2 separate regions of the Homo sapiens genome follow, and region 2 is linked to region 1. Evidence: fine-mapped expression QTL. A gene starts in region 1. The other region holds a variant in brackets. All regions are shown on one strand. Distances are from middle to middle. Region 1 holds the start of FADS2 (fatty acid desaturase 2). Region 2 overlaps FADS2 (fatty acid desaturase 2).

Region 1 (9,397 bases):
TACAACCCTCCTGCCCCGTGCAAAGGAGGCCAGAGTTCCACTTTCGATCTGTTGCGTTTTCACAAGAATAACATAGGAGCAGGTTGAAAGGTGGAACAAACCTCTGGTCTCTTCTCACCTTCCCTTGATTCTAAGAGGTCACCAATGCAGACCGGGCAGGAACAGTTGCTGAGACAAGGGCTAGGGGTAGGGGGCTGATGTCTAGAGGCAGAGGGTCCAGATCCAAGCCCCAGCTTGAGAGAGAGCAGGGGGAGCACATCCCACAGCTTCAGGTCTCTGTCTGTGAATAATTCATCTCTGTGTCTGGGCCCAGCTCAGAGCCATGGAGACACTCAATTAATGTTTGATGAATTGTCGCTGAAGATGAACAGTTCTGCAGTGGTGGGACTGCTGTGAAAAGAGCAGACACGCTCTTAGGGCGCGGGTGAGGGTTCCTTTTGCCCACAGCAAGGAAAAGGCGAGAGAAGCACCGCAGTACCAAAGGGAAGAGATCAGAGGTAGCAACAGGAAGGGAAGGAAGCTGGGAGGGGAGGACTTGAGGTCAGATTCTGAGTTTAAGTCTGAGCACTGCCACTTAAGCCAGGTTTGATACCTCAGAGCAGTGAGAGATGCCTACGGGGCTGATCCGAGTATGAAATGAAGTGATACATATGAATGTGTTTTGTAAGTTGCAAAAATCAAGCAACTTGCATTATTATAGGCAAGGTCAGGGTTTAGCTTCTGTGGAAGGACCACGTAACAGTTGCCCCATCCTTCTAGGGAGATGGATCTTGACTACCTGGATCTTTTGCTCTTCAAAAAAAAGAAAATGCCCTATTGAGGCCCCTGATTGTCCCGAGAATGGCTTCCCTGACTTCGAGGATTGTCCCAAGAATGGCTACCTTGACTTCCGACCTGTTTCCAGCCTTGTGTTAGGAATGACTGCACTGTGATGGGCTCAGAACATTGCCTGGGAATGTTGCAGGGAATCCAAACTGTCTTCTGATCAGTCCCTCCCCAGACTGTGCCTGGTCCATAAATTGTCACTCCCCATGCTCTGGGGGACAAACCATCACCCCAAGGGGCAAAGCCACTTGCTCAACAGCCTAGGCAAGGGTCTCTGGATTTCAGTAGCCTGTTCCTGCTTCTCTCTTTAGGTCCCCTTTCCACATGCCCCACCCACCCCACGCTGCTCAAGGCCTTTTTCCAACCTGGTCCTGGACAGTTTAAAAAAACAAAACAAAACAAAGAGAACCCAGCTGCTCACTCCATCATCACCATCATTCAAATCTGTATCCCCAGTTCGTGTATTTCATGCCCCAAAAGTCTTATTTTAGAAGACAGGAAGCTCTGGGGACAGGGATTGCTTTTACGTGTTGCTACACCAAATAAAGCTAGCATAGATTTAAATTTTTTCTTCAAATTCCTCTTTGCATACTTTCCATTCTAGCTGTTTCATAATACTTGTTCTTATTCCCGTTTGCCTGATAACACCCCATTGCATTCATCTAGTGGTTACAGTTGCTGGGTGCTTTGCCACAAATCAGTCTCATTGAAACAGGTACAGGTGTACCTTATAGATGAGGAGATGGGGCTCAGTCAAGTGACAACACTTAGTGGATGAGCCCAGTAATGACATCTTTCTTCAATTCTAGATCTGTTTGCAGCCCCGGTTGGCTCCCACCCTAGCTTATGAAAGTAACAAAGCAACCAACATCCAAGATACCAGATTTATAGTCCATGAAAGTTATACAGAAAGCGCTGGAGCAGGACCAGAAATGACGAGACTATTACATTTTTATGAGACAGAGAAAAGGTCAGGGAAGAGTAGGTCATTCTAGTCCTCTGTTAGGAGAGATGTGAGCACTGATTTTTGGAGGGAACTCAGTGTTAAGGTCAGGTAAGCACTGAGAACATCCAGAACAAGGAAGAAATAAATCAATCTGATATGGTAATTAAACCAGAAAGGTCAAGGCAATTGCCAGACTAAGCGTTCACATAAGAAAATATGTTTAACAATGTGGAATAATCAGACCAAATTCATCGTATTTGACTTTTCCTTCTGGAAACTTTTTGGTGAGGGCCTGGACAGGACAGGAACCTTCTACAATTTACCTATGAAATCAGAAACAGACCAGCCCAAGTCCAGCAACATATAGTGGAAAGATCCCAGCCAGGATCCAGAAGGTCCTTTACTTAGGAGTTACATTAACCCAACCTCCTCACTGGGCCGCGTAAAGGTCCAGGTGAGATAGCACTGAAGGTATGTGAAACATACCCACCTAAGTTCTAAATAGCATCACAAACCCACTGGGCTTAAGCAATGTCCACAAGCAAGTAAAACAGGATGGGACTGAAAGCTGTAGGGAATTTCAGTATCGCTGACCTTCCCAATCTTAGATAAGCCCTGGCCCTGCTGGCCCACACCACCTGTCCATTGTCCAGCTTGGGTTATGGTGGCCTGGTCTGGCCTTCCCCTAGGCCTGTCTCCATGAGATGCAAGAGGTGGGGAAGTTAAGGGTCGGGCCTACACAGCTTAGAGAGCAAAAGCCCACCAACAGTTGGGCATCCTAGACCTCCAGGTGGAATGATCTACGTCAAGTTCATCCCTCCTTTCTGCCTCTCTCCTATTCACTTTCCCCAATTTCTGTATCCCATCAGACCTTTTTTCTCTGCATCCAATTCACTACCACCACCAAAAGCCGCCCTTTCTTCCCTCCTTGCCTCTGTTCTTTTCCTTCTGGCCCATTCGAATCCATGGGATACCAGCTGCATCCTTAAATAAATGCCAGGATTTCAGACTGGGGTCCCCGGTGCGGGTAGCTGGTGCGGGGTAATCACTGAGCCACGCATTTGGTGGGGGTAAGGTGGGCAGCAATGGCTCCAGAGAGGCCCACAACCTTTAGGAGTGCAAGATGAGGGAAGGGTGTTCTTGGCAGGATTTAAAAAGAGAGAGCCATTGAGTTGAACGCCCGAGAGTAACCTCGAGTGCAGACGGACCTGTTGCCAAGCCAGTCTAGTGCTGCTAAATCCACCGGCTCAAGGCCTCACTCGACCTGGGCTTTGCAAACCCCAGGCCGTTCTCCTTCCACCAATCCCGGACGCCGGTCCCCAAGAAGGCCGGCTCGAGCTTGGGGTGAGTCTAGATAATCCCTGGAGCGTGGGAACCCGAGCTGCTGGGCGGTTTTTCCCAGGTGGCCATTGAGGAACTTCTTAGACAAGAGTCCCAGCAGGAGCGATCTCCGGCCGGGGACGAGCTTTCCTTCTCGCCACCCAGTCTGGATGGAGAGTGCGGGACAAGCGCGGAGTCCCACACCTGGCTGCCTGCGCTCCCGCTCCTTTCAGCGGCGCGCAGGGGCGGCCATCTTCCCCGCTGGGGGCGCCAAAGCCGTCTGGCCCGAGCGCCCCTCTTGGGGAGTCCCTGCCTCCAGACAAACCCCGAGGAAGGGGAGGACGCGTGGGTCCCGGCGCGCGCGGTAGATGCTTGCCCTGTTCTCCACCGCTGGGACTTTCACCGCAGCGCCGCCTCCCCGGGTCCCAGATCCGGTCTCCACCCCAGTCGGCCCAGAGGAGGAGGAGGATTGGGGAGGGGGTACGAGTGCAATAGATGCACTTTCCTTCCCTACAGGACGTCCCAAGCTCCATTCAGCGCCGGAGGTCTGTTTGGCCCACGGGGAGCCAGGGATCCTGACTCCGCCTGCAGCAGAGAAGGGTGGCTGGGGCGCCCCCAGACCCTTACCGTTGCATCTTCTCCAGCGTAGTGCCCGATGACCCGCTGGCCCCCCGGGTGCTGGATGGACCATTTGGTGATGTTGTAAACCTTGCGGTCAATGACCAGCCACCTGTCGGTGCGCAGGTTATGCTTCTGAATCTCCTCCCAGCTGAAGGTGGGCACCGACACCTCGCGCTCGGCGGCCCCCTCGCCCTGGTTCCCTCCCTTCCCCATGCTGCCTGCCGACTGTGACGCCCCGTGCACTGCGGCCTCCCCGCGCCGGCTGCTCGCTGCACAGACGGCTGCCTCCCAGCCGGTGTGTGCAGCCCGGGCCCTCTTCGCTTTCGGCTTTTGTCTTCTCCTACTCCTCCCACCGCGCCCCCTCCCCCAGCCTTCTCGCCTGCGCTCGGGAGTGTCCCTGCCTTCCTGGCGGAGGATCCCTGGCTTCCCAGTGCCCCCAAGCGGTCCCCTTCCTCCGCCCCTCCCTCAGCCCTCCCGCTATGGACTTTTGCCTCCAGTAAAAACTCCCCGGGAGCTCAGGGCCTCGACACCTCCTCTGCCCGCCCCTCCGGCTCCCCCCGCCTCGGGTTCCACATCCTCCCGCGTTCCCCGCCGCCCGAGTTTCCACAGCGATCAGCAGAGCGCCTGCACCAATCCGGTCGCGTCGCCCCGCCTGCCATTGGCCCAGGAGGATCTTTCGAAGGCCAGCGGGCTGGAGCGGCGGGTCCCCGGCTCCCCCGCCCTCCCGCGTGGAGTCGAGCCCTGCTGCGAGGCAGGCTACGTGTCCGACCTCCTCCCTCCCCCACTCTCCGGCCCCGGGCGCCGGAGGAGATCCTAGAGGAGATCCCGGTGGGGGCAACGAATGGGCTCCGCGCGCTCCGGGGCGCGTGCGCGCACGCCCGGCGCTCTGGGGGTTTGCACCTGATGCCGACACAAAGCCGGCGCGGCCACCAGGGTGCCAGCAAGCGGCCGGGCGGGTGGACCGGCGGGCTGCGGGGCACTCAACTCCAGGGCCGGCTTGGCTAGGTGACGCCCTTCCTTGGCGCGCGGCAGTCGAGACTCCAGTATCCCACATTGTCCGCGCCATCCACATTCTGGCGCCTTTCTGCAACCTCCCTAGAGACACAAGCCGGCCTTGGATTAGAGGGCTTTGAACCCTCTAGTCAGACAATCTTAGAAAAGAATTGCGGAACCTCTGCTCTGCTTTCTTGGTCTGGGCGCCATGGCTGCGGTGAGGGGGAAGGGAGGGGAAGGCAGAGGAAGGGGGCGATGAGGAACTGGCGCGGTCCTTGCCCTGGTCTCAGTAAGCTCAGTCTCTTTGGGAATCGTGGAAGCAGACACATCATTGGGCAGTGATGTTGTGCAGACTCCAGCAAATAAAGACTGCCGTATCGAAGGGATAGGAGGAGGGTTAGGTCTTTTAGGCGTGGGGCAAGAGACAGGCCCCTCAGACCCCAGCTGGATGGGGCGGCTTAGTGCCGGGCGTCCTGGGGGAAATGGGCCTGACTGCATCCGGAGGGCTAACGGGACACGTGGGAAGTAAGGATGAACAGAGAGGGTGGGGTGCACGAGGCTTGGGAATCACTAGAGGAGTTATAGGGCCCTCAGATTTCAATGGGATTTACAGGTGCCTGTGTGCTAGCACACCCTAATCATTAGATTCTCATCACAGGCTGAGAGGTAAACAGGACGCATATTATTACATCTCACTTGAAAATGGAGAGCCTGAGATTGAGAGAGATGGTCAAACGGGCCCTGCCCAATCTAAATTTCACAGCAATGCAGGGGTGGTGGGGGGATCACTCTGCCCAACTGGTGGGGTTGTACTTGGGGGGGCAGATGGGCTCCCTTTCCTCACATTCACACAGTCCCCAACCTCTCCCATCACATTTCATGCTGGTGTCAGCCCTGAGCATCCTTCATTCACTCCACAGACTGCAGACATAAAGACAGTAAGGCCTCTCTGTCTTTGAGTGTGAGCAGACATCCCAAACAAAAGCCTTCTGTACAAAATAAGAGGATGAAGCAAGACCTCCAGAGAGTATGGTGGCCTTGAGGACTGTCAAACGTTGACGGAAATGGAACCAAGAAAATTATTTTCTCAGAAATGGATTAACATACCATATAGATAACTTTAATGAACATTTGTAAAGGGTGTGGAGCTCGGAGCAGGGAGTGATAGCTGAAAGGCAGAACCAGGGAGTATCTCACAGAGGCTTTGAAGGTTCAGGCCCTAAAAGGGAGCACGTATGGGTGGCCTGTGTAGGGTGGCTGAGAAGCGTGGACCGGCCAGGGCCTGGGGTCCCCAGCGGCTCCCAGCACAGTACCAGCCAGGGTAGGTCCTGAAAAAACATAAAAACATGTGTTGAAGACACAAATGAATGAATGAAGTTCAAAGAATGGCTCCAATGAGGCCGGCGGTAGATGGGGCTCAAATTGAGAAAAGCCCCAGCAGCCTCAGTAAGGGGTAGGAAGGGAGGACTTTACCATGGAGGAGGCTTGGACATCCGTAAAGCAGGTGTACTGTGATCAGATCCATGGTGTAGAAAGATAACTCCAGAGGCTGGGGCTGGACTGGGATGTACGGGAGAAACTGGGGAACAGTGATGAGTTCAAAGATGAGGGCAGTGCTCGAGGAGAGGGGAGGGGAGGCCTGAATTAAGAGAGAACTTTAGGGGGCTGACCCCACACTGGACACTGCCATGTGCCTCCCTGCCCTCTAATTTTTTTTTGAGATGCAGTCTCACTCTGTTGCCCAGGCTAGAGTGCAGTGGTGCGATCTCTACTCACTGCAAGCTCCACCTCCCAGGTTCACGCCATTCTCCTGCCTCAGCCTCCCGAGTAGCTGGGACTACAGGCGCCTGCCACCACACCCGGCTAATTTTTTTGTATTTTTAGTAGAGACGGGGTTTCACCGTGTTAGCCAGGATGGTCTCGATCTCCTGACCTCGTGATCCACCTGCCTCGGCCTCCCAAAGGGCTTTTTCTTTCTTTTTTTTTTTTTTTTGAGACAGGGTCTCACTCTGTCGCCCAGGCTGGAGTGCAGTGGTGCGATCTCAGCTCACTGCAACCTCCACCTCATGGGTTCAAATGGTTCTACTGCCTCAGCCTCCTGAGTAGCTGGGATTACAAGCACCCGCCACCATGCCCGGCTAATTTTTATATTTTTAGTAGAGACAGGGTTTCACCATGTTGGCCAGGCTGGTCTCAAACTCCTGACCTCAGGTGATCTGCCCACCTCAGCCTCCCAGAGTGCTGGGATTACAGGCGTGAGCCACCCTGCCCAGCCTAGAATATCCTTTGGAGGTAGAATCAAGACCGCATTAGTTGGAGGTACAGGGGCAGGGGTGATGGTAGAGATGAAGGAATAAGAGAAATAAGTCTGATTCTAGCATTTGAGTTGAGCAAATGAATAGATAATGGGACCATTTACCAAGATGAGGGAACAGAGTTAGTACAGGGGTGAAAAATTAAAAATTCTATTTTAACGTTATGTTTGAAACACCTAGGCTGGGAGCAGTGGCTTATGCCTATAATCCCAGCACTTTAGGAGGCCGTGGTGGGTGGCACCATGCCCAGATAATTTTTGTATTTTTAGTAGAGATGGGGTTTCACCATGTTGGCCATGATGGTCTCGATCTTCTGACCTCGTGATCTGCCCACCTCAGCCTCCCAAAGTGCTGGGATTACAGGCGTGAGCCACTGCACCCGGCCAACACCTGATTCTCTCTTACTGCAGAAGGGTCTCCTCCATGTGACAAAAAAATATGGCTGTATTTGCTAAGCTACGCTAGCAGAAATAATTCTCCCCCATTCCCTGCTCCCAAGGATTAATTCCAGTTTAATGGGCTCTGCATCAGATGCTAACCATTGGGCCACTGTTATCAGACGGCTGAGTTACTCTATTAGGTGTAGGTCATAAGCCAAGCAGCAGACCTGGGCTTTGGGGAACAGGGTCTGTTCCTTTTTGTGGGAAGTCACAAACCAAAAGCAATTACAGACCGCTACAGTATTCCTTTCCCATACCTACCATGTGATGTTAGACCTCTGTCTCTGACCTTCAGTTTCCTCATGATAAAAAGGAGACAGTGATTTTTCTTTCTTTCTTTCTTTCTTTCTTTCCTTTCTTTCTTTCTCTCTCTCTCTCTCTCTCTCTCTCTCTCTCCCTCCCTCCCTCCCTCCCTCCCTCCCTCTCTCTCTCTCTCTCTCTCTCTCTCTCTCTCTCTCTCTTTTTTTTTCCCCCAAGATGGAGTCTCACTCTATCCCCCAGGCTGGAGTGCAGTGGTGCAATCTTGGCTCACTGCAACCTCTGCCTCCCGGGTTCAAGCGATTCTCCTGCCTCAGCCTCCCGAGTAGCTGGGATTACATGGCATGTGCCACCACACCCAGCTAATTTTGTATTTTTAGTAGAGACAGGGTTTCTCCATGTTGGTGAGGTTGGTCTCGAACTCCCGACCTCAGGTGATCTGCCCACCTCGGCCTCCCAAAGTGCTGGGATTACAGGCATAAGCCACCGCACCCAGCGGAGATAGTGATTTCTAACCTATCTCATCTATTTTAATAACGAGGCTCAAAGGACACAAGGTATGTGAAAGTGCCATACATGTATTTTCTTAACTAGCAATATTGGTGAGGTCAAACTTTAACCAAGCTCACTAGATAATGATTTATTAATATGTGGTGAAAGTCATAACTATTTTTAAAAAATGAATAATTTTCAACAACAAAAATGGCATCAACTTAGTAAGTGCATCAAATTTAGATGCCTTAAATGACAGGCTGGGGACCCTATCTAAGAAACTGGGTTAGGCCAGGCGTGGTGGCTCACACCTGTAATCCCAACACTTTGGGAGGCCAAGGTGGGAGGATCACTTGAGCCCAGGAGTTTGAGACCAGCCTGGGCAACACAGTGAGACCCTGTCTGTACAAAAATATAAAAAATTAGTTGGATGTGGTGGTGCATGCCTATAGTCCCAGCTACTCGGGAGGCTGAGGTGGGAGGAATGCTTGAACCGCAGAGGTGGAGACTTCAGTGATCCATGATCGTGCCACTGCACTCCAGCTGGAGTGCAAGACAGAGCAAGACCCTGTCTCAAAACTCAAATAAAATAAGCTGGGTTATTATCTCTAGGTGGACATTGATAAAAGGTATGGTATGTTAGGTAAAACTTTAAAGCACAGATTGCTAGTGCTGGAAAGCATCTGGACAATCTCTTCACTTTACAGATAAGGGATCCGAAACCCATAGAGGTGGACATAATGTCCAAGATTACACAGCAGTAGGTGGACTAGCAGGTCCAGGTTGCAGGTGTCTCAACTACAATCCTTATTCTTTCCATTCTACCACATTGCCTCCCTTCCTTGGTACATTCTACTGAAACTTGATGGATCCTTCTCCAACTCTGAAGTGCACAGAGAATAGAATTTGAGATCTTCACATCCCAGAGTCTAGTGCTTCGTTGCTGCATCTTTAGTGCTCATAGTATTGGTGGAGAGGTACTTGGTCAAGGAGCTGTAGGACACCATTCCTTTCCTGTTCTGGTGATAAGAAGTGCAGTAAAACTAAGGAATGCATACTAAGTGCTCGAGGAATACCTGTGAAATAATTCAGCAGTAAATTGGTAATTTGGCAACAAATGACAAGAGACTAAAAATGTTATTACCTGATCCACTAATTACACATGTAGAATTTATCCTAAGAAAATG
Region 2 (11,513 bases), 29 kb before region 1:
GAGAAACGGACCCTCCTGCTGAGGGGCAGCCATGGGGTAGGGGTGGGGGTCAGCAGCCCTCTCGTGGGGCAAGGGCGATTCTGAAGGTGCGCCCCCAACCCGGGGCCAGGTCCCCAACCGTCCCCCAGTCCTGTCCCTCCTCCTCAGCACCTGGGTCTCCTCCTGGCATCTCCTTCCAGCAGGACAGAGGGCTTGGAGGGGTAGGGAAGGTCAGAGGTACCATCGTCCCTATCTCAGAGCTCTCACAGCAGAGGCTGGCCTCCCCACGCCCCACTGTCATCCTGTGTCCCTCCACTCTGCTCTCCTCCCTGCCTCTGGCTGGACTGGTGTCAGGGACTGGGCTTGGACGTCTTCTCTCATGTACTGGGAGGGTGACTTCACGGCTCCACCCTGTCCACTGTCTCTCTGCCACCCAAGTCTTGTCTCAACTGGACCACAGCATCAGCTTCCCACAGTCTCCTGCTTGTCCTCGTGGCCATGGCAACCAGAGTGGCCTTCGCTCCAAGCAGGTCCCAACTCTCCCCTGCTAAAGCCCCCATCCCACCCAGTCACCCACGGAGCCTCATGGGGTTAAGAACCTGTCTTTACTCAGCCCCCTGACCTAGCTTACTCCCTCCCCGGGGCCTCTGCATGGCCTGTTCCCACTGCCAGGGCGCTCATCCTGCCATGAGTTTAGGTATGGTGACATGCCACAGGCTCAGCACAGGTGTCCGAGGTGGAAGGTGAGGCCAAGGGACTGCCCTGTCTCACTTCAAACGACTGAAGAACAAGGTCACATTTGTGTCTTAAAATAGATCCCCACCCACTGGAGAGGGGGAGACTAGGAAGTTATTCCAGCGGCTCAGACATGAAATGACAGAGGCCTAAACCAGAACCCACGGCACTGACAAGGAGGTGACAGATTCCAGAACTGTCAGAGGCAACGGTGGCTGCATTTGTGCCTGCTTGGCTGTGGGGAATCTAGGCTGGTCCTAGGTGATCAGGGGTCGGGTGCCAGCAGCTGAACAGGAAAGGAGGAAGGGAGCGCTCAGGAGAGGCTGGAGATGGCCTTGGGGCCAACATTGGCCGAGGGCAGGACCTCACGTTCCAATAAGGTGGCCTTCAAGGTGAGGAGGGAGGCAGATGTAGCCAGTTCTGCTCCCACTTTCCATCACATTCCTTCTATTCTGTGTGTGTGGTGCAATAGTGTGCAGTGTATCTACACATATATGGAAACAAAATGAGGATGGGGTTACGGATTATTTTTTTTTGGAGATGGGATCTTGCTTTATTGCCCAGGCTGGAGTGCAATGGTGTGATCATGACTCTGTCCCAGGCTCAAGCCATACTTCTACCTCAGCCTCCCGAGTAGCTAATTTCTGTTTTTTTTTTTTTTTTTTGAGAGGGAGTCTCGCTCTGTCGCCCAGGCTAGAGTGCAGTGGTGTGATCTTGGCTCACTGCAAGCTCCACCTCCTGGGTTCATACCATTCTCCTGCCTCAGCCTCCCAAGTAGCTGGGTCTACAGGTGCCCGCCACCACGCCCGGATAATTTTTTGTATTTTTAGTGGAGATGGGGTTTCACCGTGTTCGCCAGGATGGTCTCGATCTCCTGACCTTGTGATCCGCCTGCCTCAGGCTCCCAAAGTGCTGGTATTACAGGCATGAGCCACTGTGTCTGGCCTTACCTGGATAATTTTTTTTAAGTTTTTATAGAGATGGGGGGGTCTCACTTACTTGCCCAGGCTGGTCTCGAATGCCTGTGCTCAAGTGATCCTCCAGCCTTGGCCTCCCAAAGTACTAGGATTACAGGTGTGAACCATTGCCCTGGCCCAACTTTTATTTTTAAGAGACAGGGTCTCACTCTGTTGCCCAGGCTTGAGTGCAGTGGTGTGATCACAGCTCACTGCAGCCTCAAACTCCTGGGCTCAAGCCATCCTCCTACCTCAGCCTCCAAAGTAGGTAGATTACAGGCGCGCATCACCACGCCCAGCTTTTTGTAGAGACAGGGTTTCGCCCATGTTGCTCAGGCTGGTCTCAAAACTCCTGGCTTCAGGTGATCCCTCCCACCTCAGCCTCCCAAAGTGCTGAGATCACAGGCGTGAGCCACCATGCCTGGCCTGGACTTCTTTTGAGTGTAGAGAGCAACACATACACAGAGATCGCTGGTTTCAGGGGCAGAGAGCCCAAGAGATCAGAAGCAGCCAAAGAGGCGGAGCGAGGGGGTTGGGAAGAAGCCAGCAGAGGTGGGGACCTGGAAGCCAACAGGAAGAACTGCAAGAGGGAGTGGCCAGTGGTGTCAGATACAGCAAAATTCCAGGAGGGTGAAGCGTGGGAGCATCTCAGGATCCAGGACGTGGCCCCGGGAACAGGGAACCTTGCCAGAGCATGTAAATCTCCCCGGGAAGCCTCCTTCAAAGATCTTAGGGTTTGTCACCTCTTTCCTCTAAGCCAGGGTCCCCCAACCTCCACACTATTGGCACCTGGGACAGGCTGCTTGTTGTCATGGGCGGTTCTCCAGGGCATGGCAGGGTGCTAAGCACCATCCTGGCTAGACGCCCACCAGATGCCAGTAGCACCCTCCTCTCCTGAAGTTGTGACAATTAAAAGTGTCTCCGGATACTGCCAAAGGGCAGAACAGCTCCCCTGAGAACCAGTGCCCCAGGTCATAGGTGCGCTCCTGGCTCTGAAAGCCCCATGGGCTCATCACATTGTCCCCACTCTGCCATCCCCTTTTAGGAACATAGGGTGATTTCTTTTCCTGTTTAATACTTTGTTCCTTAGGGAACAAGCACAGTCAAAAACAAACAAAAAAAAGAAGTTGCTCACTGCAAGCTCCGCCTCCCGGGTTCAAGCAATTCTCCTGCCTCAGCCTCCTGAGTAGCTGGGACTACAGGTGCACACCACCATGCCAGGCTAATTTTTTGTATTTTTAGTAGAGACGGGGTTTCACCATGCTGGCCAGGCTGGTCTCGAACTCCTGACCTCATGATCTGCCCGCCTCGGCCTCTCAAAGTGCTGGGATAACAAGCATGAGTGACTGCGCCCGGCAATAGGCCACTTATGAGTTAGAACGGGATTGGATGCTAGAGGCAAGGAGAGGGTGTAACATGTATAAGGAGGGAAAAAACATAATGGTGCTAGTCTCTAACTTGAGCCACTGGGTGGATGATGGAGCCATTCATTAACATGGAGACCATCAGGATTAGGTTGTGGGAGAAGAGGAGAGGACTTACATTGAATATGTTGGATTTGCAATGGCTGGGACACCTCCAAATGGAGTTAGATTGGATATATGGGTCCAAGACTTGGAGATAAAATTTGACTTGGCTGCTCTTAAATTCACAGTCAGGGTGAAAAGGACAACTTCAGTTAGCAAGCGATAAAACAGTAATCAACAGGCCGGGCGCGGTGGCTCACGCCTGTAATCCCAGCACTTTGGGAGGCTGAGGTGGGCAGATCACCTCAGGTTGGGAGTTTGAGACCAGCCTGACCAACATGGTGAAACCCTGTCTCTGCTAAAAATACAAAATTAGCTGGGCATGGTGGCGCATGCCTGTAATCCCAGCTACTTCGGAGGCTGAGGCAGGAGAATTACTCGAACCCAGGAGGCAGAGGTTTCGGTGAGCCGAGATCACGCCATTGTACTCCAGCCTGGGCAACAAGAGCGAAACTCCACCTCAAAAACAAACAAACAAACAAAAAACAGTAATCAATAAACAAGTCCACATTTGGTTAAGAGAGGAAAAACTTCCCCATGGCTATTGGTTGGAGCATGAGGGACAAATAGACTGCTGAGAAAGACTGGATTTTAAGCAAGCATTTCAGAAAGTGACAATTTAGTCTTTGATAATTTTCAGATAAACAATTTATCTGCCGGGTGCAGTGGCTCACGCCTGTAATCCCAGCACTTTGGGAGGCCAAGGCGGGTGGATCACGAGTCAAGAGTTCGAGACCAGCCTGGCCAACATGGTGAAACCCCATCACTACTAAAAATACAAAAATTAGCCAGGCATGGTGGCCGGCGCCTGTACTCCCAGCTACTCAGGAGGTTGAGGCAGGAGAATCGCTTGAACCCAGGAGGCGGAGGTTGCAGTGAGCCGAGATCGCACCACTGCACTCCAGCCTGGGCGACAGAGCGAAACACCATCTCAAAAAAAAAAGATGACGTAATTACAATGGGCCCTAATGCAATATGACCAATGTCCCTATTTTAAAAAAAAGGAAAAATTTTCAAGAATCCACTTTTGGTGAAGAAAAAAAGAAAATTAAAAAATAGGCCAGGCGTGGTGGCTCATGCCTGTAATCTCAGCACTTTGTGAGGCTGAGGCGGGCAGATCACTTGAGGCCAGGAGTTCGAGACCAGCCTCGCCAACATGGAAAAACCCCATCTCTACTAAAAATACAAAAATTAGCTGGGCATGGTGGCCGGTGCCTGTAATCCCAGGTACTTGGGAGGCTGAGTCACAAGAATTGCTTGCACCCAGGAGGTAGAGGTTGCAGTTGAGTCGAGATCACACCACTGCACTCCAGCCTATGTGACTCTGTCTCAATAAATAAACAAATAAACAAAATAATTTTTTTAAAGAGGGATATTTGGACACAGATACAGATACAAATATGCAGAGAGATGATGTACCGAGAGGGAGGACGAAAGCCATCAACCAGCCGATGAGAGGCCCAGAACAGAGCCTTCCAGAGCCCTAAGGAATCCACCCTGCTAACACCTCAGTTTTGGACTTCCGGTCTCCAGAACCGGGAGAAAACACATCGCTGCTGCTTATGCCACTCAGTTCGTGGTGCTTTGTCATACGGTCTTCGCAAACGACCACACCTGTCATCTCAGCCAACGCCCAGCTGCTCCAACTTCAAACCAGGGTGTGGGGCAACCCAGTTCATGGGACTCAGGGCCCACAGGGAGCGGGGAAGGGAGATGGCCACACTTGCCTCTCATCCTGCTGCCTTTGAGAACTTTCTCGGGGGCTCTGCAAAAGCAGGGGCTGCCCCAGTGGACTCCCTATGTCTGAGGGAGAGTAGAGATCTTTAGGACTAGGTCCTGGTGGCCCCAGAGGGAGTCCTTTCCTGAGAGGCAGCTACCCCAGGGAGGAGATGCCTGGGGCCCCACAGGCTCCACTGGGGCACACGAGGAGGCAGCGTAGGACCCCCGGGTCCCCCTGTCCCAGTCACCCTCCTCCCCATGCCAAGCCAGCTGTGTCCCCAACTCACCACCCAGTTCTTATGGACGATCATGGTCATGATGATCTGGTACTGGAAATACATGGGGATGAGCAGCGGCGGCCCAACTGCAGGAGAGAGACAGGCGCTTAGAGGCATCCATTCCACCCTGCCTGTGCCGGAAGGTCAGGGGAACCCAGGCCCAGCACTGAGTGCAGGGGCCAGCCCTGCAGACGTGGGCAGAAGCAGCCAGGGACCCCGGGGCCTGCAGAGAAGGCTGGGAGCCCTTGAGGACGTGTGTCACCCCTGGGACTCTCTGAGCCTCTGTGTCCCCATCAGGCCTGTAACACAGGCTGAGGGGTCTGCACAGCAAGGCTGCTGTGGCCCCCGCTTCTAACAAGTTTAGTGTCACTTTCTGGATCTGAAAAAGATGTCAGGTAGGAGGGAGAGACACGCCACTCTGGGGGGAGGGGAGGGTCCCAGAGTGATTTCGGGGCGCCGAGCACTCACTCAGGAAGAAGTATTCGTGCTGGTGATTGTAGGGCAGGTATTTCAGCTTCTTCTTGCCGTACTGAGGAGAGAGGAGAGATCATGAGCACCCAGTAGCCTCAGCTCCCAGCCTCCCATGTTCCCCAACCCATCCTGCAGCCACCATCCCTTCTATCTGCTCAGGGCACACCACTGTCCCTTTCCTGTCAATCTGCACCCTGGGCCCACCAAGCCTGGGGCCCCTCCAGCCCTCTGGGCTCCCCATGCTACAGCCAGCAGCGGCCAACGCTTCCTCAGCCCTAGCCGAGCACTGGCCCGATGGCATCGATCCTCTACAAGGCCGGCACTTCTGAGGCTGAGGCTCAGCGTTAAGCCATGGCCCAAGGCCACAGGAAGTGGCCCTGACTGGGATCAGAACCCAAAAAGCTGACTCTGAGCCCATGTGACAGGCACTAAACAAATGTTTGTTGAATGAATGTGCAACAGAGCAACTCTCGGCGGAGCATAAGCACCCAGGGGAGTTCCTAGGTCACCATGGAGAGCTCCCGGAGCCCGCAGTGGCAGGGAGAACCTAGGTAAGGGCCCCAGAATTGCTGCCAGTCATCAGGCTGGGAGCATCTGCCTCCCTGGAGCCTCCCTGTAATTTACAAGAGTGAATCACTCCTCCCCAGCTGGAGCCTAACCTTGAGGACAGAGGAGGCCACAGCACAGACTCCTCAGGCCACATCTGGCTACCTGAGGTCCCCATGACGGCACCGGTTTCTTCCCCAT[C/T]AGAGCCTGCACCTTGGGCAGCCTGATGCCCAGAGGCTCTAATGGAGGAGGGCTGGGCTGGGTCCTGGGCATCGTCATTGTCCAATGCCAGGCATAGGAACCACGGCCCCAGGGGATCCCTGGAGCCCTTAATTCCATGGTCCAGCCCCTAGGGACCAGCCCACCCTGCACTTCCAGGACTGAGACCAAAAGATGCCGCTCACTGAGTGACACCTGCTCCTCTCCCTTGCAGTGTGGGGAGGCTGGGCTTGCAGCCAGCAGATGCGCTTGAGCCGACTCTGCCTCTCACCAGTGCTGAGACTATGTGAGTCGCTTAGCCTTGCTGAGCCTTGTCTGGCATTTGAATCAGTGGTTGGTAAGAGGAGCCAATGAGAACATGGGCATAATGCCAAGTGCTGACCCCAGGACACTGCCCGTCACCCTCCCTATACCCCTGGATCCGAAGGCCAGAGATGCCTCCTCCTATAGTGTCCAGTCATACTTATTGCAGTCAGGAGGTCAAAGTGAGTTACAGAGGGAAGGGACCTTGGATGATGCCTAGGCCAGTGCCCCTCTCATCCAGGTGAGTAAAATGATTGTCCAAATCACAGGGAGAGCATGGATTCCTGAGGGAAGAGGCTGTGGGTGGGAACCAGGTCCACCCTGTCCCCAAGGCTTGCATCTTGGCGCCAATGGCCATGGTCACGGCACAACCAGCTGAAGAACCCCCAGAAACAGTCCCTTTGTTCTGTGTGGCCTCCTGAGCCTTGGCAAGGATCTCACTCATTCCCAGAAAGGACGGCCACTTGCAGGAAGACTATTATTAAGGCCAGGGCTGAGGCCGGCCATGGAGAGGTCCGAGCCAGGGAGGCCTCACAGGAGCCTTTCATGAGTCTCCAGTGGACGGAGTTGCTGGAGGAGCCAGCACTGCAGACGTTGCTCTCGAGGTGGCCAGTCTCGGGGCCTGCAGTGGCCCACAGAACAGGCCCCTGAGTCCTGCTCTAAGCTTCTCCCAGAGGCCAGGGAGCAGGCTCATAGCCCCAGCCTTGGCATGCAGTGTCTCCAGCTCTGCTCAAGAGCTCCTCCCCACCGCATCTCTGTCCCACAGAGCATCCCATCCCTCTCGGGCTGGGCCGGCTGTACTCGGAAGTGAGCACAGAGGGCAACCCAGGCAGGTCAGCAGGGGCCAGGGCATCCTATGGAGGGACTGAGGGCTGGCCACGCTGTTGTGGGGGCCTGGGAGGCACCTGGGGAGTCTGTTTGGAGCTGCATGTGCACAGTAGGCACCCTGTTCTCATGGGTGATGGTGGCCTGTGGGTGGACAACACAGGTTACAGGGGCTGCCTCTGCTGGTAAGCACTGCTGGCTTTAGTGTGCGTCCCTTCAATGCCCCAGAATGACCCTCGGGAGCCAGGGGGTCCTGCTTGCCAGGCAGCAGCAGGCCTCAGAGTGGGCCTCTGTGGGACGGTGAGCAAAATGCTCATCACAGTCACGCACGTGTATGTACATGCGTATGGTGACATACCACTACACATCTGTGCCCATCTCGATGGCCTCAGCTGCAGCGGCTCTGCTGGGGGATGGCCAATACTCCCCTCCCAAACCAGAAAGTACAACTGTGGGTTTGGGATACGAAGCCCTGCCCTGTGGCTAACTCTCTGCTCTCATCTTTCCCACGCTCAGTTCTTTGCCAGAGCTTTGCCGTTTAAGTCATGGGACCAGGGAAGGGAGGGAGAGGTATTTTAGAATGTAGCAAGCTAGGGGGGTGAGTGCCTGGCTGTTTAATTGATCAGAAAGCTGGGGCTACCCAACAAACATATTTCACAAGGGCCCCCAGGACTCCGAAGCTGTGGTTTGCAGCCAGATGGTTTGGGTTCGGACAGTGGTGTTGCCTTTTCCTTGCTGTTACCTTGAACAAGTCACTTCATGTCTCTTGGCCTTAGCTGTTCCATCCATGAAATGGGTCGATGACAGCTCCCGCCTCACGGGTTAAGCAAGGATTAAGTGACGTTGTGCACGCACACTGCCCATCACAGTGCCCGGTCCACAGACTCACTCAACAAGAGTCAGGCTTCTTCCCAACTGGGGGCTCAGAGCCCCAAGTGTGGGGAGTGGAGGACCCCACACATCTCCTCCTCCAGAGGAGTCCCCGTCACACACACAGAGAAAGCCCAAGAGGCAAGGAAGACACATGACTTTCACCTGGCTGGGCTGCGGCCAAGGGTGTGGGTGGCACACATGGACCTCCCCCTGATCAGCAACAGTGCCTTCCCAGGCTGCGGTTGACAGGCAGAGACGCAGGCCAGGGGCAAGGGAGGGAGTGCAGCCAGCCCTGGCGGCGGGGCTGACTCTCCTGTCCTCGGCCTCTCCATGCACCTCAAGGCCAGGCTTGGATGAGGGCCTGGGGGATGCCGGGCCATGTGGAGGGGACCTTTCAGCTTTGGAACAAAATGTCTGAGGAATGACAAGGGCCCTCCTTGTCCATCGAGGGTTGGGGGAGGGGAGCTGTCGCAAAGCCCAGTCTCTGCCTCTGGGAACCTGCAAACTCACACACAGAGAGAAACAGGCGGCACGACCTCCCCAGCAGGAGCAGAATGGCAAGGTCCCAGTCCAAGGTCCCCGAGAGGGCGGCATGTGTGTCCCAAGGCGGGATGGGTGGCTTAAGCCTGTTCATGAAGGTCTGCCTCAAGCAGGAAGCCCAGGAGGTTAGCTTCAGACAGTCAGAGCAGCAGAGGTGGTTTCCCGGATGGGAGGAGGAGGAGGATCTCAGGCACCGCACGGCTTCTGAGGCCCCTTTACACTGCTACCGGGATAATGGTCTCACCAGCCCCCTCAGAAAACGGGGATATGGCAAAAGAAGAACAAAACAAGGCTGCTGCCAATATCACCGCTATTAAACTCAGCTCTGAAATTTCCCGTCAATGCAATAAAACCCAAAGCAGAAAACAGAGTGGAGCTATTAGAAAGAAAGAGACTACTTCAACATCCAGATTAGAAAGAAAGAAGGAAAGGAAGGAAGGAAGGAAGGAAGGAAGGAAGGAAGGAAGGAAGGGAGGGAGGGAGGGAAGGGAGGGAGGGAGAGAAAGAAAGAGAGAGAGAAAGAAAGAAAGAGAAGAAAGAAAGAGTGACTACACTTTTTTTCTGTTTGTTTTGTTTTGTTTTGTTGTTGTTGTTGTTGTTGTTGTTTTGAGACGGAGTCTCACTCTGTCGCCCAGGCTGGAGTGCAGTGGTGCTATCTCAGCTCACTGCAACCTCCGCCTCCCAGGTTCAAGCGATTCTCTTGCCTCAGCCTCCAGAGTAGCCGAGACTACAGGCGTGTGCCACCATGCCCAGCTAATTTTTTGTATTTTTAGTAGAGACGGTGGTTTCATTGTGTTAGCCAAGATGGTCTCGATCTCCTGACCTCGTGATCCGCCAGCCTCGGCCTCCCAAAGTGCTGGGATTACAGATGTGAGCCACCACGCTGGGCCGAGAGACTACGTTTTCATTATTTTCTAGGATATGATCATCTACCCAGGAAACTCAAAAGAATCAACCGAAACACAACTAGAATTACGAAGAGACGTAAGTGGACACTAGCGGGACAAAAGATAACTATCCCATTCATTGGAAGGCCATGCAAACAAAAATTTAGAAAAAAAAGAAAATTAAGATAACTACCCCAATATCCACTGCTTTCCCGAGTACTGGAGAACCTCCAATCATAATGACAAAATATAAAACATATAAGGATTGCGTTTTAAAAGAAACATCCATGAGACATATAAAGAAGTACAGACCTTGGCCGGGCACAGTGGCTCATGCCTGTAATCCCAGCACTTTGGGAAGCTGAGGTAGGCGGATCACTTGAGGTCAGGAGTTCGAGACCAGCCTGGCCAACATGGTGAAACCCCATCTCTACTAAAAATACAAGAATTAGCCGGGCATGGTGGCGGGTGCCTGTAGTCCCAGCTACTCGGGAGGCTGAGGCAGAACGATGGCTTGAGCCCAGGAGGTTGAGGCTGCAGTGAACCGAGATTGCGCCACTACGCTCTAGCCAAGGTGACAGAGCATGACCTTGTCTCAAAAACAAAAACAAAAACAAAAAGAGAGAGAAAGAGAAGGGGAAAGGCACCCCACTACGAGCTTCCAATGAGTTAAGTGCCAAGGATGAATGAGTGTGAGTGTGGCCCCCAAGTCATCCAGACGGTGGCCTGGGAGAGGACAGACAGCCCAGCCCAGGCCAAGCCCGGGCTCAGGAGCACTCACTGCCTCATATGAAGAAGCAATGCCACCTCATGGGGGTGCCGGGAAAACTGGCCGACTCTGGAGAAAAGTGAAGGCCGAACATCATCCTACCCATATCCCATTTGGCAGAAGTTAAAGATTGAAACACAAAACCTTAAAGAACTGAAAATAATATGTATGAAGAACTTTCTAAGCACACAAGAAATGAATCTCTGGGTAAAGTGAATATACTTTGCTACATATGACAAAAAGAATCCTCCTGGACAGCATCAATAAGACCAAAATGCAGAAAACGAGGAAAAGGGCTTTACTGCGGAGCCCGCGCTATTCACAGTTCCACGTGCTGGGAGCCGCTTGGCAGGGCTGCTTTGCTTATCTGTCCCCAGAGATAGAAGCCCTGGCCGGCATCCTTGCTCTGGAGACTGGGATGGTGGCTTGAGGCCCTGGGACCTGGCCGCCCCACCTGGCCCTGCTGTGGTGTGTGGGACTGGCATGTGACAAGTCCCATCAGACCCACTGTCACTTCAGTCAAGAGACCAGGGTTCCTTCCAGGGCGGCCGGGTCCTGCGAGAGCCAGAGCACAGGTCAAAACACCAGGAACCCAGGAAGCACCAATCCTTTCCCCATGAGTGTGAGAGCGGGGATTTCCACAGAACACCGCGGCACTGGCTGGGGACTTCCAAACGCCGCTGGTAACTGAACAACCAGATCCTCACAGCCTCCCACCCCTATCTCCTGCCCCAAAGCCAGCGTTCCAGAAGTGTCGGGGGTGAGAAGATGTCGGGAAAGGAGAGGCTTCTCTGGCCACCACGCACAAGAAAGACGCCTTCTTGCCAGTGCAGCTGGTGGGACTAGACTTTCTTTGTTGGAGACACAGAGAACATCTGTCAGGACAG

Evidence for each region. PIP is the estimated chance that this variant, and not a neighbour inherited with it, causes the effect. A credible set is the group of variants that fine-mapping cannot tell apart.
Region 2: its variant is the best candidate, but not a certain one, in a credible set for the expression of FADS2 in testis (GTEx, PIP 0.65).

What each region holds. Positions count from the first base shown.
Region 1 is chr11:61,822,919-61,832,315 of GRCh38, reverse strand. It overlaps FADS2 (fatty acid desaturase 2), which reads right to left and starts at 4,016. Exons shown (of 12, transcript NM_004265.4): 1 at 3,719-4,016. The coding sequence starts at 3,925. It overlaps LOC124902680 (a long non-coding RNA gene), which reads right to left. Exons shown (of 2, transcript XR_007062696.1): 2 at 8,344-9,286. RefSeq lists silencers at 3,951-4,050, 4,071-4,170, 4,291-4,730 and enhancers at 4,322-4,999, 5,000-5,677.
Region 2 is chr11:61,851,220-61,862,732 of GRCh38, reverse strand. It overlaps FADS2 (fatty acid desaturase 2), which reads right to left. Exons shown (of 12, transcript NM_004265.4): 6 at 5,662-5,722; 7 at 5,203-5,279. Among named protein-coding and RNA genes, the nearest start is that of MIR6746, 21 kb to the left of the region's middle. RefSeq lists enhancers at 484-984, 985-1,485, 5,239-5,740. The variant C/T (reference allele first, on the strand shown) is at 6,412.